5 separate regions of the Homo sapiens genome follow, and all the other regions are reported to be linked to region 1. Evidence: microRNA targets listed by miRTarBase, many of them from high-throughput screens and not tested one by one. Region 1 holds a microRNA gene; each other region holds the end of a gene's coding sequence.

Evidence for each region. Region 1 holds the annotated microRNA hsa-miR-4273 (GUGUUCUCUGAUGGACAG, at 2,983-3,000, shown strand). A microRNA usually pairs through its seed, bases 2 to 8, with sites in the 3' UTR of a target mRNA and lowers its output. Matches are read on the target gene's strand: a 7mer-m8 pairs with bases 2 to 8, a 7mer-A1 pairs with bases 2 to 7 and ends in A, and an 8mer does both.
Region 2: miRTarBase lists DNAJC9 as a target of hsa-miR-4273. Seed matches in the 3' UTR shown: 8mer at 3,000-3,007.
Region 3: the mRNA of POLDIP2 is a reported target of hsa-miR-4273. Seed matches in the 3' UTR shown: 7mer-A1 at 4,718-4,724.
Region 4: miRTarBase lists SAMD12 as a target of hsa-miR-4273. The part of its 3' UTR that is shown has no 7-base or 8-base seed match.
Region 5: the mRNA of SEZ6 is a reported target of hsa-miR-4273. Seed matches in the 3' UTR shown: 8mer at 1,919-1,926.

Annotation. Positions count from the first base shown.
Region 1 is chr3:75,735,308-75,740,412 of GRCh38, forward strand. It overlaps MIR4273 (microRNA 4273), which reads left to right and starts at 2,973; the gene lies at 2,973-3,056. It overlaps ZNF717 (zinc finger protein 717), which reads right to left. Exons shown (of 5, transcript NM_001290208.3): 5 at 561-4,038. The coding sequence ends at 1,571.
Region 2 is chr10:73,239,346-73,244,450 of GRCh38, forward strand. It overlaps DNAJC9 (DnaJ heat shock protein family (Hsp40) member C9), which reads right to left. Exons shown (of 5, transcript NM_015190.5): 4 at 4,498-4,584; 5 at 2,609-4,174. The coding sequence ends at 4,055. FAM149B1 (family with sequence similarity 149 member B1) reads left to right here. Exons shown (of 14, transcript NM_173348.2): 13 at 1-39; 14 at 1,601-5,105. The coding sequence ends at 1,674. Among named protein-coding and RNA genes, the nearest start is that of DNAJC9, 5.4 kb to the right of the region's middle.
Region 3 is chr17:28,343,353-28,348,457 of GRCh38, forward strand. POLDIP2 (DNA polymerase delta interacting protein 2) reads right to left here. Exons shown (of 11, transcript NM_015584.5): 11 at 3,281-4,879. The coding sequence ends at 4,765. It overlaps TNFAIP1 (TNF alpha induced protein 1), which reads left to right. Exons shown (of 7, transcript NM_021137.5): 7 at 1,012-3,657. The coding sequence ends at 1,248. LOC124903963 (a long non-coding RNA gene) reads left to right here and starts at 4,878. Exons shown (of 2, transcript XR_007065687.1): 1 at 4,878-4,977. RefSeq lists enhancers at 836-1,339, 1,843-2,346.
Region 4 is chr8:118,375,079-118,380,183 of GRCh38, reverse strand. SAMD12 (sterile alpha motif domain containing 12) reads left to right here. Exons shown (of 4, transcript NM_207506.3): 4 at 484-2,200. The coding sequence ends at 767. All of the region lies in intron 4 of LOC105375724 (a long non-coding RNA gene), which reads right to left. Among named protein-coding and RNA genes, the nearest start is that of SAMD12-AS1, 240 kb to the left of the region's middle.
Region 5 is chr17:28,951,794-28,956,898 of GRCh38, reverse strand. SEZ6 (seizure related 6 homolog) reads left to right here. Exons shown (of 17, transcript NM_178860.5): 14 at 142-180; 15 at 432-549; 16 at 638-740; 17 at 905-1,994. The coding sequence ends at 937. It overlaps LOC105371716 (a long non-coding RNA gene), which reads right to left. Exons shown (of 5, transcript XR_001752822.2): 1 at 3,491-5,105. Among named protein-coding and RNA genes, the nearest start is that of PHF12, 2.8 kb to the right of the region's middle. RefSeq lists enhancers at 4,257-4,878, 4,580-4,989, 5,090-5,105.

The sequences.
Region 1 (5,105 bases):
TACTGCAAACTCCAGGGCAACTAGTAAAAACCAAAGTATAGAAATGCTAAAAGAGAAAACAGGCCAGGTATAGTGGCTCTTGCCAAGGTAGAAAGATGGCTTGAGTCCAGGAGTTAGAGACTATCCTGAGCAATACAGTGAGACCCTGTCCCTACAGAAAAGAAAAGGCCAGGTATTGTGGTGCATACTTGTAGTCCTAGCTAATTGCATACTTGTAGTCCTAGCTAATTGGGAGACTGAGGTGGAAGGATCACTTGAACCCATGAGGTTGAGGCTGCAGGGAGCCATGATCACACCACTGCACTCCAGCCTGGGTGACTGTCTCAATAAAAAAAAAAAAAAAAAAAAAAGCAACGAGAGGAAACAAAAATCGTATAAAATCATCAACTCCATAAAAGGCAGAAAAAGAGTGGAGGACAAAGCAAGATCAAAGAATAATAGGAGTTAATGGAAAATGATATGGCAAAATTAATCCAACTGTATAATCACTTTGAATGTCAATGGTCTAAATGCACCCAGAAAAGACAAATTGTTAGAGCCCATCAAAATAGAGGCACATCTCACTTTGAGCTTCACTTTATTTTGCTTGGCAACATCACCTTTTTAACAAATTAAAGATTTGTGGCCACGAAGTGCTCAGCAAGCCTGACCAGCACCATTTTTCCAACACCATGGGCTCACTTCACATCTCTGTCACATCTTTTGGCAATCCCAATCTTTCAAAGATTTTAGTTATCACATCTGTTATGATCTGTGATCAGTGATTTCTGATGTTACTAATGGAATTGTCTCAGCGTGCTGGAACTCTATGGAAGATAGCAAACGTGATGGAAAAATGTTGTGTTTGACTGCTTCATTGACTAGTCATTTCCCTGTCTCTGTTTCTCTCTTCTAGCTCCCCATTCCCCAAGATACAACAATGAAATTAGGCCACTTCACTCTGCAGTGGCCACCATGTGTTCAATTGAAAAGAAGTGTGCACACCTGTCACTTCAAATCAAAAGGTAGAAATCATCGAGCTTAGTGAAGAAAGCATGTTGGAAGCTAAGACAGGCCAAAGCTAAGCTTCTTGCATCAGCTACTCAAGTTGTGAATGCAAAGAAAAAGTTCTTGAAGGATGTTATAGGTGCTACTCCAGAGAACACATGAATGATTTTTAAAAAACAAAACAGGCTTTTTACTGACACAGAGAAAGTCTGAGTGGTCCACATAGAAGATCAAACCAGCCCCAACATTCCCTTGAGACAAAGCCTAATCCTGAGAAAGGCCCTAACTCTCTTCAATTCTATGGAGGAGAAGAGAGGTGAGGAAGTTGCAGAAGAAATGTTTGAAGCTGGCAGAGGTTGGTATATGAGCTTCTAGGAAAACAGCCATATCTGTGACATTAAAGTGCAAAGTGTGCTGTAAAAATGGGAACAACAAAGCCTGCATGATAGGACTTCTGTTACAGCATGGTTAAGACCTTCTTGTTGGTAGGCCAGGAGGTAATGGTCACCATTTGTGTCCATATTCTCCTAGACTGAGCATGGAGAAATCTGTAATAGTAGCCAGAGAGGTGTAGGTTGTGTGTTCAAGGGAAAAAAGAGTGATTTTGAGGGAACACATAGCCTGCCTCAGCTACGTCAGATTTCTCTCCTATATGGGTTTGTTGATGCCTGCTGAGGTGTGACTTCTGGCAAAAGGTTTTCCCACATTCCTTACATTCATAAGGTTTTTCTCCTGTGTGTGTTCTCTGATGTATACTGAGGCCTGACTTCTGGGAGAAAGTTTTCCTACATTCATTACATCTAAAGGGTTTTTCCCCTGTGTGAGTTCTGTGATGTACAAAGAGTTTTGACTTCTGGGAGAAGGTTTTCCTACATTCTTTACATTCAAATGGCTTCTCACCTGTGTGAGTTCTCTGATGTATGGTGAGAACTGTCTTATCGTAAAAAGTTTTCCTACATTCATCACATTCATAGGGTTTCTCTCCTGAGTGAGTCCCCTGATGCGTACTGAGGTTTGACTTGTGACAAAAGGTTTTCCCACACTCATTACATTCATAAGGTTTTTCTCCGGTATGGGTTCTATGATGTACAGTGAGGACTGACTTCTGACAAGGTTTTTCCACATTTGCTACATTCATAGGGTTTCTCCCCCGTGTGAATACCTTGATGCTTCTGAAGATTTGCCTTCTGATGAAAGGATTTTCCACATTCATTACATTCATAGGGCTTTTCCCCGGTGTGAGTTCTCTGATGTATAATAAGGTATGATTTCTGACAAAAAGTTTTTCCACATTCATTACATCCATACGGTTTTTCCCCGTGTGAGTTCTCTGGTGTATGGTGAGGAATGACTTGCGATGAAAGGTTTTTCCACATTCATTACATACGTAAGGTTTCTCTCCTGTGTGAGTTCCCTGATGGGTGCTGAGATTTGACTTCTGACGAAAGGTTTTTCCACATTCATTACATTCATAGGGTCTTTCCCCTGTGTGAGTTCTCTTGTGTATCCCAAGGTTTAACTTATTGATAAAGGTTTTCTCACATTCATTACATTCATAGGGTTTTTTGCCAGCATGAGTTCTCTGATGTATAGTTAGGAATGACTTACAGTGAAAGGATTTTCCACATTCATTACATTCATAGGGTTTTTCCCCTGTGTGAGTTCTGTGATGTACTGTAAGGTATGACTTGTGGCTATATGTTTTTCCACATTCGTTACATGCGTATGGTTTTTCCCCAGCATGAGTTCTCTGATGGACAGTGAGGAATGACTTACAGCGAAAGGTTTTCCCACATTCATTGCATTCGTAGGGTTTTTCCCCTGTGTGAGTCCATTGATGGATAGTGAGGAATGACTTACGGTGAAACGTTTTCCCACATTCATTGCATTCATAGGGTTTTTCCCCTGTGTGAGTTCTCTGATGTAACCTGAGGTTTGACTTATTGATAAAGGGTTTTCCACACTCATTACATTCATACGGTTTTTCCCCTGTGTGTGTTCTCTGATGGACAGTAAGCCTTGACTTATGGCTAAATGCTTCTTCACAATGGTCACATGCATAGGGCTTTTCCCCTGTGTGAGTTCTATGATGTATTGTGAGGTATGACTTCTGGCTAAAGGTTTTTCCACATTCACTACACTGATAGGGCTTTTCCCCTGAGTGAGTTCTGTGATGTAAAGTGAGAAGTGACTTACAGTGAAAAGTTTTTCCACATTCAATACATTTGTAGGGTTTATCCCCTGTGTGAGTTCTCTCATGTAAAGTGAGGAATGACTTACGGCGAAAGGTTTTACCACATTCATTGCATCCATAGGGCTTTTCCCCTGTGTGAATTCTCTGATGGATAATGAGGCTGGACTTATAGCTGAACAATTTTTCACACCAGTTACAGGCATAAGGTTTTTCCTCAGTAGGCATCTTGCACTGTAGCATAAGGTCTGATTTGCTAATGGAGGGTTTCTCACATTCAACACATTCATAGGGTTTCTCTCCTGTGTGTGTCTGCTGATGTTTAGTGAAGTCAGACTTTCTACAGCAAGTTGGCTGTCCTACCTGAGTTATCACTTGGACAATAACAGCTGAGTTATTACAGGCTTTCTCATATTCATTATATTTACCAAAGGTCTGTACTATATGAACCCTCTTATGTATAAAGAACATTGCCTCCGTGTTGAAGGTTTTCCCTTGTTCATTACATTGAAAAGTCTGCAGCAGAGTTTGAATCTTGTGATGCTGAGTAAGATGTTCATGATGTCTGTGGGATCTCCTGGTTATATCACAGACATGAGGTTTCTCTCCAGACTGTGTCTCCCCAGGCTTAATAGGGAAAAGCATGTTCTGGCAATCATTAAACTGCCCAGGCTTCATTCCTGAACTGTTTCCATTATTTATAATCAGATTTAAAACATGGTTTGAGTTCAAATTAAATGTTTTTCCTAATTCAACTCTCTCCTGAGTTGATGTGTTGCTGTTGGTGATTACAATTTGCCAGAAAAATCTATCATGACTTTCATGGCTCCTTTCAATAAGGTCATCAATGATCTGGACAGCTGAAATGAGAAAAAAGGTATCCATGAACCACACATGAGCATGTCTTACAGAATGCTTGTGTAAAGGTAAAAAAAATTACTTCCTATCTCAGTGGAGTAAGATTTGACAAAAATAAATATGGGTATTGGTTTTATATGCATATGGTTTCTGTTCCTACTGACATAATGTAATAAATCAGTATATTTTCTAATGTTCAATTGAGTTTTTCTTTGCATTTTGAAGTTTTCCTGTTCTTTTTTATTTCACAAAGAATTATTTGGTAATAATATGCATCTACTTCCTACTCATAGGTTTTAATAAGTGCTCATTATTGTCATATGTTTTCTCTCTTTTTTTTTATTTATTCATATAACAATAGTGGCTGTTTTAATAGCTGCTATTTTTTCTTTATTCTTCTTTGAAGATAGCCAGTTTTTCCTGGGTCAGCAACTGGTAGGTATAGGAGATGGCCATTTTTCTGTCTCCTAAGCATGGAAGCAGCTTGTGGACAGGATTTTGCCTATATGTTAACCTTTCACTCCTCCCTGAGAATGGTTAAATGTGTCTGGAGGTTTTCCAAGCAGAAAATCTCTTATTCCCCATGTTAAACAAAAACAGATCCTGGCAAATTCCTACTTAAACATGACATCCCCTGCTTCCCAGAACCATAATAGGCACAGAAGCTCCAGTCAAAAAACCACACTGGTGATCTGAAGGATTGGTTCTGCAACTCAGGCTGTGCCCGTCATCTTCGAAAAGTGTATTTCTGGTTCCTTCTGAGATCCACAGCCGTGCCCCTCTCCACTCACCAATCGCTGCTTGATAATTCACCATTTTTGAAGGGTTTTATTTTGTGTTTTGGAGTTTCAGATGTCACACAGTTTTATATAAAAATGAAGTTTCCTGTACATTTCTCATCTTCCAATGGTAACTACAAACTCCACTCTCAAACAGAAATCTGAGCCCTTCAACAGGAAATAATTAGTTTCTTTGGACTTGAGACCCAGAATCTTCTGGTTCTCCTCCCAAGTCCAGCACCACCCCTATCCAGGCCCCTATGATGGGTCCTCCTCAGCTTCATAATTTC
Region 2 (5,105 bases), not on the chromosome of region 1:
AGTATCCTCATCAGGCCCGACCTGGCAGGGGATCTGCAGGTAAAGGTGGGGCCATGGCCCTTATTTACTACTGTGTGGTTGTGTTAAGACCCAGCCTTTGTCTTTTTTCCTACACCTATTTCCCCTTCTTTCAGATTTTCTTGGATTTAATGTTTTCCCACATCTTTGTAAATCACCTAAAATTCATTTTGGAACATGGGGTATAATAAAAAGCTAGGAGAGTTCTATTGCTCAGAGCCAAAAAGTTTCAGATTCCTATTTTCTTCATACCATGTAAATTAACTTCTCACTACTTTGGTAAACTGCCTTTTTTTTTTTTTTAAATCTAAAAAGTTCAACCCAAATTAGTCCTTGTTGTAATGTTCAAAATATTCTTTAAGAACATAGCATGGATTTTATTATGCAGGCAAAATCCATATTCCTATGGATTAAACTGCTTTGATCAGTTAATCTGTTAGGCCAAGGTAAGAAAAGAAATTCTAAACCATCAGGATATGCTGAGTCTGATTCTATCGCATTAACTCTTTTTATCTTTAAATTATACTCTGTAGATGTACTAACAAAGAAGTGATGGGAGAAAATTGAGGGATGTCTTTTTTGAGACAGTCTCACTCTGCTGATCAGGCCAGAATGCAGTGGCATGATCATGGCTCACTGTAGCCTCGAACTCCGGGGCTCAAGGGATCCTCCCACCTAAGCCTCCCACATAGCTAGGGCTACAAGCAGTGCCACCATGCCCAGGTAATTTATTTTTTGTAGAGACAGGGTCTTGCTATGTTGCCCAGGCTGCAGGATGTCTTAATTCTTCCTGTGACAGTCTTCTCACCACCATCAGGGTCATTCTTATTATGCTGAAGGTAAATTTAGAAGTAATGGACAGCTGAGATGTTTCCTGTTAATGATCAAAATAATCAGCAACTATGGTAAAAAACTAGTCTGCCTCAAACCATCTTTGTAGTCCAAGTGATTTCTCAGCTCAGTTCCCCGCAGCATTGTCTGGTAGTCTTTGAATGCTTTTGTCAGATTATGCTTTCAGATCTGCATTTGAGCTACAATTTCAGCCACATTGAAAGTCAGGTATAACTGGCTGGGCGTGGTGGCTCATGCCTGTAATCCCAGCACTTTCGGAGGCCAAGGCGGGCGGATCACGAGGTCAGCATATTGAGACCATCCTGGCTAACATGGTGAAACCCCATCTCTACTAAAAATACAAAAAATTAGCCGGGTGTGGTGGCAGATGCCTGTAGTCCCAGCTACTCGGGGGACTGAGGCAGGAGAATGAGGTGAACCTGGGAGGCAGAGCTTGCAGTGAGCCGAGATCATGCCACTGCACCTCCAGCCTGGGGGGACAGAGTGAGACTCCACCTCCAAAAAAAAAAAAAAACCTCAGGTATAACTTATGTAACACTGAAGTGGAAGTGAGTAAATCAGACATCTTGCTTCTTTTTAATTAGTGGGCTCTTCTACAAAACTAGTTTACTGCTTTCATACCTTAAGAAAGTCCAATTCATAATTGGAGCAAAAAAGCCCTTAGCTATAAACTTGAGAGTGATTATCAAACCTAGACTGTCTACTAATGTTACTCTATGTCATCTGACAGGTCCTCAGTTACATGGGTCTACAAAATCTCAAAGCGGAGGCAGACCAGTCTCTCGAACCAGGCAGGGACCATAAGGCAAATGAGAAGAATCTATCAGGCTGCAGGAAACACGAGATTTCATGAAGCAGTATTCAGTCATCAAGTGATGCAGAGCTTGTATAGAAGATCGACTAGAAATCATCTTCATGAAGAGTGATTTTGGCACAAGTGACCGAAGAACAAAACACCATAGCAGCCAAAAATGACATGAGTGTTGTTTCTATCTCCAGTTACTGTCTCTTTCAGCAGAAATTAACCTATCCCATTGGAAAGGCAAGTTTGTACCCAAAGATGCAACAGTGAATAATACCCAAATCACTGCTCATGTTATCTCTTAACAATGATCAGTTCAATCATATAGGATTTGATGAGCTCACACATACACAAAAAGCAGCAAATCATCAGTGACAATATCACTGGCTTCAGAATACTTCAGCCTGTGTTCATTTCTGGAGAGTTGTACTCAGTTTTAAGTCATTTTGCTGTTGAAAATCTGACCTCATCAAATAGATGTCATTCCTAAAACTCTCTTTAGATGTCCTACCCTATCAGCAGATTAAAATGGAAGGGGTGTGTAACTAAAAACATAAATGTTAAGCATTAGTATAAAGTAACTTCTGTAATAAATTATATCGCATATTTTTTCAGATAGGACAGCTCAACCTTACGATGCCTACCTGATGCCAGGTGATGCTTATTTTCTTCCTAAAGTAGGTTACTGGTCATATCTTTTTTCCAAATATTAAATGCACCTTGCCAGATATTCTCCTGCAGCTCTAAGGAAAGGAAATCAATTTAAAAATAATTTGTAGAATCTACTATTGAGCCACCAAAGTATAATTCCCTAAAAGTTTAAGAAACCCTGGCAATTAATTCAGCATAAACATATCCTATAAACAGCAGGAGAGGTTCAGCTTTCTGATTTTACTGTGGACCTTTTCCTAAGGGCATTCATGAATGCAGCAACAGTTTTAACTATGGCTTACATTTATTTTAAATTTCACTAAATACAAATCTTGATTGTCATGCCAGTTTTAGATCTTATTAATTTTCAGAATGGATAAATTCAAATAATCATAAATTACGGTAACTTTTTATTATACCAAGGTGTTCTAATGCCATCATATGAAGACAGATGCTTCAAACAACCTGCATTAAATTATATTTTTAATAAAATTAAAATCTATTTTTAACCTATTTGTAGTCACAAACCGAAAACGTGTCGTCTTTACCTTAGAGCTAAAGGCTTACTTTATGCATACGGTATATTTAATAGTCTACAAATCAAAGATTTAAACAGTCCCTTAAAAATTCCATATATTCTCATACCAACTCATCTACATAGAAATGAAAATCTCTATTGTTCTCACAAACCATTACCATGAGTTCACTATAACAACTGGATCAATATGGCTTGCCTTTCAAAGTTAAAGAATCAGAAAGGGGCCTGTAAGAAGTCATTTAGCCCAATTCCCTCACCCTGTGTGTTTTCCCTCAAAGCCAGTGCAATTTTTTTTTAACCAAAAAACTGGACATGTTTAATACATACAGTTTGACAAATTTGGATTTCACTCTTTGTTTTGATGTAGTAACTCTTTTATAAAAGGGAACAGATTCAGACAAGCTCAGTGGCCCAACTGAAGACATTCAGCAATTAATGGCAGGACTTCAGTAATCAGTGGCAGGACTACAACATACATCTCTTCATGCTAGGGAAACCAGGCTCTCTATTATAAAGCTGACCAGGGCTATTGTTTTCCCCTTTTCTCTCATCCTAAACACCATTCATATTTTTCCTAGGTCACATTTTAGTGGGATCATTTACAAAGCCCCCAGAACTTAATCATCATGTTTTACCTTTTTTATTGAATTATATACACCTCTTACAAAAATGCTTGAAGTAATTTAACACCTGTACATCAGTACAAAACCTGGCTGAGTAAAATGAAGAGAGGATCTATTCAAGATCATTAAGACCAAATGTAAACTGGGAAGTATGTGGAAGATAGCTGTCCAGCAAGTGTCTGGAAGGTGTTCTAGCTGGGTAGAGAGCCTATTCTAACAGACACGCACATCGCAGAAAGCAGCATGAACAGAACCACATCCTAGATAAGAGTTCTGTGTACAGAAGATCCATGGAGGCAAGTGCTGTCAGGAAGGACACTGCCTCCCTCCACCCTCCCAAATGTCACCACCAAGTTCCTTCAGGTGAGACCTCACACAATGTCAAGTGCTTTCTAGGAAATACTAAGATCAGGTTGAGAGATTCTGCTTGGTCTAGTCAATCTGAAAAATTCAGGCTGGAAAGACACCTTTTCTCAAGAGCTGAATTGACTTTTGCCTTCAAATCCTGCCTGCACCTTGCCTACGATGGCATCAATTTACACCTAAGGACCTTTGAAGAGAAAAATTCCATTATTTCTTTTCTTTCTTGAGAGCAGATTTTTTCCCTCCTCCTTTGGAAGATTTGCAGTACTTTGCTTCCATCTGAGCCAGAAAATTGTCCATTTCCTTTTGCCGATCCTTTTGTCTGCTCTGTTTGAGAAGTTAAAACACAAGCTTTCACAACATTATCCATAGACAGAAAGTACCTAGTGGTTGCCAGGGGCTGGAAAAGTGGAATAACTACTAATGGGTATGGAGTTTTTTTGGAATGGTGAAAATGTCCTACAATTGGTGTTAATAATTGTAAAACTTTGTAAATACACTTAAAACCACCAAATTGTACACTTTAAAAGGACAAATAGAAGGTATGCGGTTATGTCTTAAAAGAAGAAAACAAAATACAACATTCCAAAGAAAATATTAGCAGTAGGAATCAGATCATTAAAGATGTGGCAACAAACTGCCAAGTTTACCTGAATGGCTGCCTTCAGGCTATCCACGCCTTCATCAAGCCCCAACTCCTTTCTGCTCATTTCTGCTTCTTTGGCCTCTTCCTGAGCCTGAAACAGGAACTCACATGAGACTCAGGGCCACCAGGAAATGCTTAAAATACATACTCTTTCCCAAAAGCAAATCTATAATTCTGTTTCAATTTTATGAATATATGAATAGACAAAATGAATCGAATTACATAACTATGTCATTCATTAAATGGCAACAATGCTGACAGCAAGCAGTAGATCCTCTGATTCCAATTACCATTTGTTTTTTACCCAATTCTATTTGCTAGAGGTAGTAAGTACTCTGGCACTCATAAATCACATGATGATAAAAAGGAACATGAGGCCGGGTATGGTGGCTCACAACTGTAATCCCCATACCTTGGGAGGCCAAGGTGGGAGGATCACTTGAACTCAGGAGTTCAAGACCTGCCTGGGTAACATAGTGAGACCTCAGTTCTATAAAAAAGAAAAGAAATGAGCCTGGTGTGGTGGCATGTGCTTGTAGTCCCAGCTACTAGGGAGGCTGAGGTGGGAAGATGGCTTCAGTCTGAGAGTTCAGGCTGCAATAAGCTGTGATC
Region 3 (5,105 bases), not on the chromosome of region 1:
CTGGGGTGGATGGCAGGTCATCCAGGAAGGGCCATGTGGGTGTGAAGAGCTCAAAGTAGCCAGACTTGCCAAGCAACTTGTCGACCCCCAAACTACTCCAGGTGCCTCCAGCTGGGAGATCTGCAGAGGGTTTGGGGAAGGCCAACTTACAGGTGGCCCTGCTTCCTTCTGCGGTTTTTGGTGTAGGGGTGGGAGGGAGGGCGACAGGTGGTTCCTGACCCTATCGGTGGTGAAAGGGTTCAGGGGCAGGTCTCCAGTGGCTGGTGATGCTGCGACGGAAGTGGCAGCGCACCTGGCATCTTCTTAAGTGTGTTGTCTTTCATGAACTCGTGTGACCCCTCACAACATGCCTGTGAGACACGCAGGGCTAGAGCCACTCTCCCCATGTGACAGATGAGTGAACAGAAGCTCAGTCCAACAGAGCAGGTCTGGCTAGAATTCAGGTGCTTGACTGCCTTCCCTTTCTCCTTCCTCCAGGCAGGTCATGCCGGTGACACACTGCGTCAGGCAGGCAGAGAAAGGCAGCATAACCACTCAGCATAGCAGCTGCTCTGTGTATGCCTCTGCTTGGTGGTTTGCTGTGTGCCAATCTTCTGCTAAGCAATCACATCTTTCCCGTAATGTTGACAGCAACTCTCAGGGGTTGAGCTGAACCAACCTTTTGTACATATGGGAGCTGCAGCCCAGAAGGGTTCAGCCCAAGGCTCCACAGCTAGCAAGTGGTAGAGCTGTGTTGGGACCTAGCTCTGGCCCACCCTCTATGCCCACTAGTCCCTTGGTCTCAGGCTGGGGCAGGGGTGTGGAGGATGTTGGTCTTCCCTGTCCTCATGTCTGTAGAGTACATCCCCTCACCCCGCCTTCGGAGGGAGGCTGGCTTTCCCTGGAGACGGACCGCCACCTGTTTTATGAGAGGTAGCGGAGGCCTTATGGAGCCTCAGGGCCAGCCGCTCTGACGCATGGCTTCCTCTTGAAGATGAAACCTTGCTCCACCTTCTTCCTCCCTAACCCCAGGTGGAATTCCCAGAGGCCCGAATCTATGAGGAGACACTCAACGTCCTACTCTATGAGACTCCCCGCGTCCCCGACAACTCCTTGTTGGAGGCCACAAGCCGTAGCCGCAGCCAGGCTTCCCCCAGTGAAGATGAGGAGACCTTTGAACTGCGGGACCGTGTCCGCCGCATCCACGTCAAGCGCTACAGCACTTACGATGACCGGCAGCTCGGCCACCAGTCTACCCATCGCGACTGACCAGACCCTCAGGGAGTCAGGGCACGGGAGGCCCTATCTCCCATCCTGTGGAACCCGCCCCATTGGCCACCCCATGCTGCTGCTGCCTGGGTCTCTGCTCTAGCACCCAGAGGCATGACAGGCCCTGCTCAGAGGTCAGAGGGTCTGGGCAGAGGAGGGACCACATTCCCCTGCCTTGCCCCTGAGCACTTCTGGAGACTGCGTCCTGTCCTATCTGCTCACCATCACCCTTCCTGCCCGACGGAGCTGCTTCTGCTCCCTGGGGCATATGGACTGACCCACCTCCTGCTGAGAACCTTCCCCTAGGCCCTGTGCAGAAGGCTACTGCCCCTTAGGCCTCAGCTGGGGGAAAGGCAGTTCTGGTGCTGTAGAGGCCCTGGTGCAGAAAGTGGGACGTCTTTTTTCCTAAGGTGTTTAAGCACAGGCTTGATAAGTTTGGTTTTTAAAAAATAATCTAGGAAATGAATAATTCTAAATCTAGTAATGAGGAAACTGAGCATTTCTTTTGCCCTCCAGGGTGCCAAGACCCTACATATGACAGAACCCTTGGCCCTTCTCCATGCCTGTGGGATCTGTTTCTTTAAAGCACTTTGTACTGTTATTCAGGAGGTTGATAATCTCCTTGACCCATGTCTTTCTACCCTAATCCCCACTTCCCTGCAGAATCAATCTGAGGGAGGGGATAAAGAGGAAGCAATAAAAAAAAAACATCCGACAGAGCAGCTCTGGCTTTGCAGCCTGGCCAGCAGCTCAGAGTGCACCGAGGAGGGAAGGATGGCTAAGCTGGGACCGGCAGTCCTCACAGGGTGCCTGTGAGAAAGGACATTTTACCCCCACATCATAGTCACATCACTGACTCCTAGGTCTAGCACGACTGCTCTTTGTGATTCTCTTGAGTACCCTTGGCTTCCAGCCATGCTGTCCTCACATACGGTAAAGCCAAAGAGCTGTCACATGGGCCAGAAACATGAGCCACGGCAGGAAGACCGTGGAGCCCGTGGGCACTGCATGGTGTTGGCTGGCATGCCCATCAGCTGAGGACAGCAAACTCCCAGCAGCCCCTACAGAGGTGGCACATGCTTGGCCACACATCTACTCCCTGCCCACACCATCTATGCTCTTGGTTGGTGCTGGCTGGGATGGCGGTTCTGCCCAGTGGTGTCTCTGAGCGCGGGATGACAGGAGCAACCGAAGCACCCTGAAGGCCTTCACTCCTTGTTGGGTAACTCAGCCATGGAGATGCCAAGCACTAGCCAGGAGGTGAGTTCCTCTTTAGGGCTTTGGTTTTCATTCCTTTTTGTTTGGCTTGGCCAAACCAGAATTCAGCTTATCTGAATTATTTTCCAAAGGAATGCTGTCAGGGAGGGACTGTTCTGCCAGCCTAACAAAGCAACGTAGCCACGTATAGTACCCACTTTCTGCTCTTTGGAGAGAACACAGGTTATCAAGTTCATCTCTCTTGACTACTCTTATGATAGCTGATGCCACAGAGCCTATGGGCAAATGCCAGACCCAGGGTTAGACACAAGGACCTGAAGTGACATGACGGCGGGACAGGGGAAATGTGACTTTCTAATTAGGCATTTTATGTTAGTCACAGTCTTGAATGTATAAACAGCACTAAGACTCTCAGGTCAGGTACCTTGGTGATCAGCTACTAGTTCTTCCAGCCCTCATTGAGGTAACAAGATAAAGACAAATCCACTTCTTTGGCCAAATTCAGGCTTTGGCTTTATGACTTTCCCACAGAGACTGGAATGCGTCAGCCTGAGACCACTGGCCTATTTTCTCAGCTGCCCTCTTGAGGTCCTTTAACACTCAAATTCCCAGCTCCCCACTGAGGTGTTGTGATGCTTGCCTTTTGACCTCCCCATCCCCTTTAGTCCCTGCTTACTACTTTGACATTCACATCCTCAGTGTCTCAGTCTTTTTTGCCGAGAAAGCACAGTAGTCTGGGACTGGGCATTTATCTTCTCTGACTGAAAATCTCTCCTTGGTCTTAAGGAAAATACTAACATTGAACTCACTGACATGATCTTAGCTTCTTTAATCAGACTTTGTGACTTAAAAGTTTGGGGGTTTTCTTTGAAAGTTTCCAGCCCTATTCAGAAAGCAACTCTTGGCTGTGTGCATTTTTCAACTCCAAGCAGCCCAGGGGTAAGTAAACAAAGTATGGATGAAGGTCAGATTTTCTTGTCAGTTTCTGAGAAACCTGGCAGCCTGCTGTTAACAACACAGGCCAGTATTGGGTTTTATTGAATTTGGTATGTGACCAAGGTCGGCCTAAAGGATGGCGCAGGTCCTGGGCAGGAAAGAATTTTTCCTTTATCACATAACTGTAATATTTGGTTGCTCAGCATAAGTGATGGAAGCAAACACTAATTTCTAATAAAATTGTGTTAAACTCAATGGTACAGAGCCATGTTTACAGTGAGCAGGCCTTGACCAGCTTGCGGCCATGGGCTGAGTTCCTGTGCTTCTGTTTATCATCTGACCTTGTGTTCTAGCCAGGTCGTAAGCGCGACTGTACTGTTGCCCTGCAACCCCAGCTCCCCCTGGAGGACTAAGGACAAGAATAACAAGGGCTGGAACTGTGATTTAATATTAATTCAAGAAAACTACCTCTAACAATCACTGCAGTGGCGGAGGAAAAGAAATCCTAAGAATTGGGGCAAGATGCAGCACAATTCATCTCTGGCTCTTGGAAATCTGAGAGAAGCTCAGGAAGTAGCTTGACTTAGTCATCAATCCATACCTAAAGCTGCTCCTCAGCCAAATTCCTGCATTTGTGGTCTGGATGCTTGGCAGAGTCATGCTGAGGGCTGGCACACCCATTGCTCCAGGAAACCCGACTGGCTTGCCTCCCTCCTCTCCTGGGCCTAGCGAGGCCAGAAATGGCAATGGTCGGTCAGTGCTAAGAGCCAGGCCACTCCGACCCTGACACTGGCCTCCCTCTCTGCATTTGGCAGAAGGTAAAGTGAACAAGAGTCCAGTCCAGCACCCCCGCCAACTAGCTGAGAGGCACAGTGACCCTAGGAGATGTCCAGCCAGCCTCCAGGCTGAGAGGGAAACAGGCACATGCCCTACCAGGGGGGCAGCTCCCTGGAAGGGCAGCAAAGAAAGCAGTCAAGGGCGCACACTGGGTCAGAAGGGGAGCCTGAGACTCTGGGAGCAGAAATGGCAAGGGTGGCCAAGCGTGCACTGGTTTACTGATCAAACCTCACGTGACAGGCCAGGAAACTCCTCCAGGCCTGTGGCAGCTGAACACAGTTCCTTGGTGGAGAGGTTTACTGGAACATGGTGTAGGCAGGGCTTATGAGGAGGCCAGCCTTGGAGGTGTCCCACATGGGTCTTCTGAAGAAAAGTTATACCACCCCTCCCCACAAAAAGAACCCCACAATCAAATTAAGAGACCCACTGTGGCCCATGATGGGGAGAGAAGAGTTCTGCAGCAATTGTGGGATGAGAGTTGTTCTTCCCGGTGACCAAGCCTGGGCACTTGGGGCCTCAGCTGGCCTACCAGTGAAGGCCTGAGGGTGGTGTCTTCTCATCTTTATTGCTTTCCAGGGAGAAGGGAGGAATCCGAACATCAAAGTGGGAGCCATCAGGTCTTTCAAAGCGGAACGTGCCCCTACAGTCAGAAAGAAGCTGGTTTAGAAGGAGCCAGGGCTGAGGCCTCCTAAGGATCTGGATGGCCCCATGCCCTCAGCTGCCAGCCACAGAGGACATGTGAGCCTGAGCTCTCTTCTATCTCTAGCTCATGACAGGATGACTGGTCCAGAGACCCAAGAGCCCCTCATGGTTATCCATGAAAAGAAAAACACAGCTGCAGTGGCTCACGCCTGAAATCCCAGCAT
Region 4 (5,105 bases), not on the chromosome of region 1:
ATTATATCCTGTGTTACACATTGCTAGAGTTTCTGTATATACCACTGTTAGAGCATCCAGTTCTTCAGCTGGGTTGTAAGTGAGTTGTCAGTGACTTGGGCTCCTGTGGGCCAGCCTGAGAATCCAGCCCCCAGTGAAGAGCATTGTTTCTATGGCAACCTGCAATTTGTGACCCAAATATCCAGGTTAAGGTTTTCCTATTTTATCTAACTGAATGTATGAGTCACACATTCTAACTGAATGTGTGAGTCAGTGGGGTTTCCCAATGTTCAATTAAAAGTTAGGGTTCTCTTTTAAATATGTGTATTTTTTTCACCCAGATAATCCATTTGTGTCAGCAATAATAATGGAAGACCTTTATTCTAAAATGTCTGTGTTTAGGTAGAAACTTCTGTGATGGCAGGGTTAGTCAAGACCAAAATGGACATCTTTCTTCAGCAAGTAGTTCATTTGCTTTTCCTTTTATTTCTTAAAACCCTGCAGGGCGAGCCCTGCTGAGACTTACTGACAAAAAGCTCGAGCGAATGGGGATTGCCCAGGAGAACCTCCGGCAGCACATCTTACAACAGGTGCTCCAGCTGAAGGTGCGAGAAGAAGTCAGAAATCTACAGTTACTCACACAAGGTACCCTATTGCTTCCTGATGGGTGGATGGATGGGGAGATTAGAAGAAAGACCACCTTACTATTAGGACAGACAGGAGTCAGGGAGAATTTGTTATTGTTTCTTCACAGAATTTCCATCATAGAAAATAGTATACAGATTTAAGATTACTTCCCTTTGAAAACTTTTTTCATAGCTCACTAGGGAGAAGGATGCACAAATAAGTAATGGATGAGCAAACAGAATTACCTGAGCTAACTTCAAGGTGGTCACGTACAGTTGTATGGATTGTGTACTGCACAACCCCAGAGAATACCAGTCACATCAATCAGGGTACGATTGCACTCACTAGAGTTGTATAATGTGCAGCCTGCACAACTGTACAGTCCAGCTGTAGCTATCTTCACCTGCGCCAATTGTGAGGGCGCTTTAGCATTTGAGTGATTCAATAGTTACGATGACCAGTGATATAAGTGGAGTTTTTGTTGTATTTTTGTTTTGCTTTTCACCGGTTAGTGGGAGAAAAACATTTTAGATATGTATTACTATACATGAATGTATTATACACACACACTTTAGAGATTGTAAGAACCCCATTTAGCTTCTTGAAAGTGGAATAATTTTTATAATAGACTATAGTGAATCTAAAACTACACTGTTAAGAGTATATAATTCTTAACAGGAATTATAAATAACTTCAATATGATGAGAGCACTTAAGATCTCAATAACTGTGGAAGTGACAAAATAAAGCTAGAATTCGAAGAAAGCCTTAAGTTACACTATATGTAACTGATATGTCTACATGAGATTTGGATGCTATCAACCTTCATTGGCTATAAACTTTATTTGTTTTATTTTAGCGTCCATTGTACATCGTTTTAAATGAAAGGATGATAAAATATGTGTTTTTGAGAGCCTTGAGTATTTGTCATTCTGCAGAATATTGTAATTGCATGCATACCGATATTGGAGAAATCTGGGTCAGCCAAGTTTCATGTTATTGCATTTAGATTAACCTAGTAATAGTCCATTTGCCTAGAGGAAATAATGTGCTCCCTGAAAGATGACTATTCTAGAAGGATAAATATAGATTTCAAGTGATCGTAAAATAGTATTGTTTGTCTCATATGCATTATTTGCATTTTGTCCTCAGAGATTTCCAATGGTGAATTTACTGGTATACTAAGTGATTTAAATTTGAATGTGAAATACTGATAGGCTTTTAAGCTTCTTTTAAGAAGTAGATAGAAATACGAAGATTATGATAAGAAAGTCTGTCACAGTGCTATTTGGAAAACGGAAAATTTACAAGCAACCTAGAGGTCCAGCAATGTGAAAAGAATCAAGTAATTCTGCTTAAATTCATAAGATTCAGTATAATGCCCAGTTATTAAAATTACATCTTTAAAGAATACATGACAACATGGGAAATTACGTAAGTCATACAAGGTGGGAGGAAAGGTCATGTGTAAAATTGTATGCATAATATAAGCCCAATTTTGTAAAAACCATATATTCTTATATGTACAGAAAAAAAGGACTGCAAGTAAATATGCCAACCATTTTAATAAAGGATCTCTCTGGATTGTGGGATAAGTGGGTGACTTAAATTCTTATTTTTCTGTATTTTCCAAATCTTCTGCAAATTCATATTACAATTATAATCAGAAAATACACATATGCATTTTTTTAAGCTTCAACCACAAGCATAGCTGCCCAGCTTCTGTTTAGTGTCTGGTTTTTGCAGCTCATTCTTTTTCCCTCTGGTGATGATCTATATAGAATGAGACCTAAACTCACATGTGACGCATTATGTGTGCCTTTGACTCTTTTCCTCTACTAATGTCAGCCTGCAGTGTGTTTGCTTTGGAGAATCATTTTCTACAGCTCTCATTGCCCTAGATGCATAATATATAAGATTTTTCCTAAGATAGTACTCAGGTCTATTAAGCTAAATATACATACGTGTTCTGGGAAGATAATGCCCAGTTCAGTCCTTTGAATTCAGTTGTTGTTGTCACTTTCTTGAGCTTTGAAAAGCTGTACATTTTTAATTCTTTCATTCAGTTCCCTTTGGAAGGCCGCATTGTTCTCTAGCTCTTGGGTATTTTGTCTGTGCTGATATTACCTTTTTTATTGCTTGTTCTTTACATAGGTTTTTGGTTTTGGTTTTGGTTTTTTCAAGACAGAGTCTCACTCTGTTGCCCCAGCTGGAGTGCAGTGGCGCAATCTTGGCTCACTGCAACCTCCACCTCCGAGATTGAAGTGATTCTCCTGTCTCAGCCTCCCAAGTAGCTGGGATTACAGGCATGCACCACCACACCAGGCTAATTTTTTGTATTTTTAGTAGAGATGAGGTTTTTCTATGTTGGCCGGGTTGGTCTCGAAATCCTGGACTCAAGTGATCTGCTCACCTTGGCCTCCCAAAGTGCTGGGATTACAGGCGTGAGCCGGTTCTTCACATGTTAATGCTCAAACTCATGTTATGTCAGGCATCCTTCAGAAAATACATAGCCTTATTGAAGTAATAGTTTCTTTTTTAAAAAAAAAAGGAAACAAAATTGATAAGTTGTTTTTATGTTTTATGATTAATAGTAGAAGTTGTAAAGACAGATTAGCGTTAAAATATTTTGGGTCTAGGTTTGCTATAATAAAAATATTAGAATTTCATTCCACTCAGGTGAACTTATTAGTTTAAAATATATATCATATAGAAATTCACCATAGGGGTAACAGATGTTTCAGTAATGAATATTTGATTCTTCATCTCTGTAAATATTACTCAGCAGAAACAATATGCTGAATAAGTACAAACAAAGACTTTGGAATGTTTTTGGAAATCCTTGGGCTTCCCTCTTAAAGAGGGTGAATCACAGTTCTTATCCATAGAGATGGAGTATCCTTCCATGGCTCACGTGGGGCTGTCACTCTGGTGTAATGCATTTAATTGTTTGTTGTTGATGATTATCTAACATGTTCAGGCTGCGGTAACAAAATGCCATAATCTAGGTAGCTTATAAACAACAAAAATTTCTCTCTTACAATTCTGGAGGCTGAGAAGTCCAAGATCAGGGCGCCAGCAGATTCAGTGTCTGATGAGGGCCCACTTCCTCACAGATGACCTTCTAATCATTGTAATGTCACATGGGGTGGGATATCTGTGGGGCTGCTTTTACAAGAGCACCAATCCCATACATGAGGGCTGCACCCCCGTGACCTGATCACCAAGCAAGGGCCCCACCGTCCAATACCATCACCTTGGGGGTTAGGATTTCAATACATAAATTTTGAGGAGACATAACATTTAGACAATTGCATTAATATTTAACAAATATTTACTAACCAACGCATTTTAAGAAGAGTTATCACTTTCAAAGTCCATTTTTGAGGAAAGGAATTTATTTTAAAAATGATTGCGTTTCTTAGGAGTTTTCTTCTTGCCTTTGGAGGCAATTTCAAAATATAGTTTCTTGGAAACAACTTAACTGTCCATCTTGAGGGGAATAGTGAATTAAATAATGGTACACCCAGGCATTGGTGTACTCTTAGCTACAAATACGAGAATGAAGAATACTAATATGGTAGGATCTCTGGGATGCTATGAGATGAGAAAAAAGTAAGGTGCAGAACAATGTATACTATATTTGAACAATGCGTATAGTATGCTACATTTGCCAAAGAGGAGGAAATAAAAATGTATATCCATATGTGCTTTGTTTTAAGGAAATGCTGAATGATGTACAAGAAGCTAATACAAGCTGCACCTGTGGGACAGGGAATATGGTGGATGGAGAGAGGGTGTGTGCCTTTTATGTCACTTTGTTTGATGAAATGTATGAGTATATTAACTATTTAAAGGAATAAAATTTTTAAAAAGAAACAAGAAGGAAAAAGGGTGAATTTTGGCATCAGACAGGCCCAAATTTTAAATCCTGTACCTAACACATTTTGCTGTGCTCACCAAATAGGGATGTTGTAAGAATTAAGGGAGCTAAGATATGTAAATCACTCGATACAGTATGATAGTAAATGCAGAATATTGTTGGCTATCAGTAATAGAAGCCACGCAATTTAATCAACCTCATACATTTATAATAATCCTTATTTTTATAACATCTTCATAGAGATATAATTCACATAACATACAACTTACCCACTTAAGGCTTAAAATTCAGTGATGTTTAGTGTGTAAAGAGAGTGGTGCAACCATCACAATAATTTACATATGCGTATAAGAGAGGATGAAGAGGTTAAGTAATATACTCATAGTCAGACAACTAGTAAAAAGCATAGCACAGGTCTGTCTGACTCCACAGCAAACTTTTACCCATTACGCTTTATTGCCTTTATTATGTCAAATGGGCTAATAATTTCCATCTCCAGGTGGTTGTTAAATGAGATTTTATGTAGAAACCGTATAATAGAGTTCATTGCATATTCTATGACAGAGGTTGGCAAACCTTTTCTGTAAAGGACCAGTTTGTAAGTATTTTAGTCTTTG
Region 5 (5,105 bases), not on the chromosome of region 1:
TGGCATCACCAAGACAAATGCTGGAGTGGCCTCTCCTTGGACAAATCCTTCCCATGATCATCCCACTACCTCCTCTCCCTGCCTTAGTGGTTTGGCCCATTGGGCTCACTCACTGCCCTTGGCCCTCCCCTTTTGTTCCAGCCTCTCTGGATGGGTTCTACAACAGTCGCAGCCTGGATGGTAAGTCTCCACCCTTGAGGCCAGAGAAGTGGTCTCCCTGGTCCTGGTTCTCACGGCTCCCAGGTCATGGGCTTCCCAAGGAGGGAGGGCAGAGAAAGAGAGAGGTTTGGGCCTAGCAGGTTAAAAAGCTCCTTCCCTACACCCAGCCAGCTAGAGGGAGCTGGTAGTCAGATGCCCTTGGGCAGAGGTGAGAGAATATGGGCTCCAGGTGACAGAGACCTCTGCTCCAGTCACACCCTCTGTGTCTTCAGTTGCCAAGGCACCTGCTGCCTCCAGCACCCTGGATGCTGCCCACATTGCAGCTGCCATCTTCTTGCCACTGGTGGCGATGGTGTTGTTGGTAGGAGGTGTATACTTCTACTTCTCCAGGTGAGTCTGGCTTCTCTTTCTGCTCTGCATACCTGCATACCTCACTCCTACCCAGTGCTCCTGACTTGCAGGCTTCTCTGCCCCACAGGCTCCAGGGAAAAAGCTCCCTGCAGCTGCCCCGCCCCCGCCCCCGCCCCTACAACCGCATTACCATAGAGTCAGCGTTTGACAATCCAACTTACGAGACTGGAGTAAGTAACCATGCCAGCCTTGCCACCCTATCCAAGACCCAGTTCTTTGCTTCTTTGGGCAGATAACCCTGAGGGTCCTGCCAAGCCCTCTCACTTTTTCCCTTTTCCTAGGGAAGGTGAATTATGGCCTGGCAAACCTAATACAAGTTTCCAACTCCCAGCAGTCTCTTTCCTTTGCAGGAGACGAGAGAATATGAAGTCTCCATCTAGGTGGGGGCAGTCTAGGGAAGTCAACTCAGACTTGCACCACAGTCCAGCAGCAAGGCTCCTTGCTTCCTGCTGTCCCTCCACCTCCTGTATATACCACCTAGGAGGAGATGCCACCAAGCCCTCAAGAAGTTGTGCCCTTCCCCGCCTGCGATGCCCACCATGGCCTATTTTCTTGGTGTCATTGCCCACTTGGGGCCCTTCATTGGGCCCATGTCAGGGGGCATCTACCTGTGGGAAGAACATAGCTGGAGCACAAGCATCAACAGCCAGCATCCTGAGCCTCCTCATGCCCTGGACCAGCCTGGAACACACTAGCAGAGCAGGAGTACCTTTCTCCACATGACCACCATCCCGCCCTGGCATGGCAACCTGCAGCAGGATTAACTTGACCATGGTGGGAACTGCACCAGGGTACTCCTCACAGCGCCATCACCAATGGCCAAAACTCCTCTCAACGGTGACCTCTGGGTAGTCCTGGCATGCCAACATCAGCCTCTTGGGAGGTCTCTAGTTCTCTAAAGTTCTGGACAGTTCTGCCTCCTGCCCTGTCCCAGTGGAGGCAGTAATTCTAGGAGATCCTAAGGGGTTCAGGGGGACCCTACCCCCACCTCAGGTTGGGCTTCCCTGGGCACTCATGCTCCACACCAAAGCAGGACACGCCATTTTCCACTGACCACCCTATACCCTGAGGAAAGGGAGACTTTCCTCCGATGTTTATTTAGCTGTTGCAAACATCTTCACCCTAATAGTCCCTCCTCCAATTCCAGCCACTTGTCAGGCTCTCCTCTTGACCACTGTGTTATGGGATAAGGGGAGGGGGTGGGCATATTCTGGAGAGGAGCAGAGGTCCAAGGACCCAGGAATTTGGCATGGAACAGGTGGTAGGAGAGCCCCAGGGAGACGCCCAGGAGCTGGCTGAAAGCCACTTTGTACATGTAATGTATTATATGGGGTCTGGGCTCCAGCCAGAGAACAATCTTTTATTTCTGTTGTTTCCTTATTAAAATGGTGTTTTTGGAAAAAAAAAAAAAAAAAAAAAAAAAAGCAATGGCCAGGTGAATGATGCTTTCTTGGAGGGACGGGAGGTGGGAGATAAATGGGATATGGACTTCAGGACCAGAAGGCATGCTAGACCCACCAATCAATCATCTTCAGATTTTATTTTATTACTACTGTTTTTGAGATAGGGTCTCACTCTGTCAACCAGGGTGGAATGCAGTGACTGGATCACGGTTCACTGCAGCCTCAACCTCCAAGGCTCAAGTGATCCACCTCAGCCTCCTGAATAGTTAAGACTATAGATGCAGGCCACCACACATGGCTAATTTAAAAAAAAATTATTGTAGAGATGGGGTCTTACTATGTTGCCCAGGCTGGTCTCCAACTCCTGGGCTCAAGTGATCCTCCCACCTCAGCCACCCAAAGTGCTCAGATTTTATTTTAAAAGAAATTATTGCATGCAGTTGAACAGGGTCCCCTGTACCAAAAGGGACAGTGCAACAGATAGCAGGCAAAATCAGAGGCCCCAATGGCTGATGTTACAGGGATGTGGGAGCCCAGGAACCCCACTGCACATCCACCCAATGCCTTATTTCCTCCTCTTTGCCAGGTCCAGAACTACAGGCTGGCACACTCCCAAATCCCTTCTCAACGCCACTGATGCCCTTCTCAATGCTAACTAGGCTCAGGAAGTCTGATGCATCTCTCCTTCCCCTTATTTCTAAGTAAGCAAGGCTTGGGAAATTAGAATAGGAAACAGAGACTGATCCCCAAAACATGAAGCCCTAATCTGGCTTGGCCTTACAAAACCCTTAGATTGTCAGGAGCAGTGGTAATGCAGCTTACGGGCTTGGATCCTAAGTTAGGCAAAGGCCCTAACCATGGGCTCTGGAAAAAGGTGGCTGGGAGGATGTGCTCAAGTTTGCCCCTTCCCTATGGGCCCCAGCACCTACAAAGATGGAAAGTGCCCAGCGTTGGCCCCCAGTATGCACATTCCATGCTGAGAGGTGTGCCCTGCATTGCTGCTCTCCAAGAGTGACAGCAAGAGGCAGGCAACAGGAAATTATGGGAGCTCAGAAACCAGTAGAGAAAAATCCATGAAAGAAATAATAGCAGCAACCAGCACCTTCTGCTTCTACAGTCTTCCAAAAGGGAAGTCTTGACCACTCATGCTGCCTACCCCTGGCTCTAGCACAAGCCACCTTGAAGGATGGAGAAGCTCTTGTCCATGCAGAGTGCAGTGCCTAGATTAGCCACAAGAGGTCACTTCCAAAGGCGTCTGTATCCCACCTGCTCGCCCCTCAATCCCCCCTCAACTGTCAGGGCGGGAGCTCTCCAAGGTGGGAGCATTCCTTGGCCCCACTGGCCTAACCTCATCCTGCAAGTTCCAAGAGGAAGAGGTGTGAAGTTTCCCTGGCTCTTGTCAACAGAGCCAAGTCTTATTTCCCTCATTAGCCCATAGTTCCTATTATCAGCTGCAATTGATGGTGTTGATCAAAGCAAAGCCTTGTCCAGTGGATGGATGCCAATGGCTTACTTACCTGTTCCATAATGCCTCCAGGTTAACACAGCAGCACAGCTGGGCCCTGAGCAGTAGGAAAAAAAGCCAAAGAGAGAGGGCACATGAGGTTCTAAACTCTGAGAGCCTGTGACATAAAATATAGCCATAGGAGATAGAAAATCTTGCCTCTTTCATACAAACAATCTAGCTCAGCCCTCCCCTCTCTGATGGCCACATCTCTGGTCCACAGCTCCTGAAGTTTATTGTTGGCTCAGAATGGTAGAAAGCAGAGGGCAGCCAATTCACATGACATTCTCCACCCCACCATCCATGACCTTATCATTCTTTCCAGGCACCAAGAGGGTCATCAGAAAAGCGAAAAGTCAGGAAAACAGAAACCTAAGACTCCATACACTGACATCCCCACTCTGTCTAACTCATCCTCCTTACTGTCCCCAAAGCAAGCATAGTAATTCCTTAGACACAGTCGACATAGTGTAATGGACAGTGTCTGGCTTGAGAATCAAGAAATCCAATTCTTAGGTCTGCCATAAATGCACTATGTGACCTAGGCAAATCACTGCGCCTCCCTGTGCATCTGGAAAAGAGGGGATTAAATCAGATGGTCTCTAAACCCTTGCTAGTTTGACGACTCTGAGAATGCTGTGTCCCTTAACATTAAAAGTGGGCCGAGCACAGCTACGAAGCAACAATTCCAACTAAACCCCTAGTGTCAAGCACAACGATACAATTCTCTTTTCCACTGCTTCATCCACCATCAGGCAGCAATAACCAACCGCCCATCTCTGACGGCAATACCAAGGGGAGGAGCGGGCGCCCTGAAAAGGAGCATGAATCCCCGCCCAGAATGCGAGGCGGGCCCTCAGACTACAAATCCCGGCATGCAGCACTGACGCTCTCAAAAGTATCCCTTCCTGGCCGGCAAATGACTCTTCCCCGGGTCTATCCTACCATAGAGTGCATCGCACGCACATGGAACTACAGTTCCCACAATCCATCAGACCTATCGCGATTCTTGCTCCCAGGATGCAATGCGCCCCCGTTCGCCCTTTAGACCCTTTGGCGTTGCAAACTGGGAGTTGGAGTCCGGGGTACGCAGGTAGCTGGGCGTTGTCAGGATTACAAACTCTCCACTTTAGGCTTCCTCTTGAAGAGCAGATCTCAGGGACAGTGGTGAAGAGAGGGTGGTAACGGGCAGGCGGAACTCTCCAGTGCCACCACCACGCAAGGCAGGGATGCTGAGGATACAATTAACTGATAAAATTATCTGTCAGGAGCGGGAGAGAATTAGGAACCACAGTCATCCCACACGCCTCCAAAAGCGTCATTTTCTGTCTCAAATGGCTTTTCTCTTTACCAATATGGTGGCCTGGTCCAGCCACACCCGATGGTAGAACCAAACGGTCAAGTACAACATCCCTAGGAATACTGCTGTCACCGACAGGCGACCAGCTCCATCCAACACCACACCTTGCTCCTTTCTGTTCATGCCTGAGGACTCCAAGGGCATGATAGCCCATATCCCATTACCAAAATGGCGAAAGGAGCAGCTTTCTTGTGAGGGCCTGCGGAAGGCAATACGCCTGCGCGGGAGGCGTCTGTGTTATGGAGAGGAAGGGGGAGCACCCCCAACA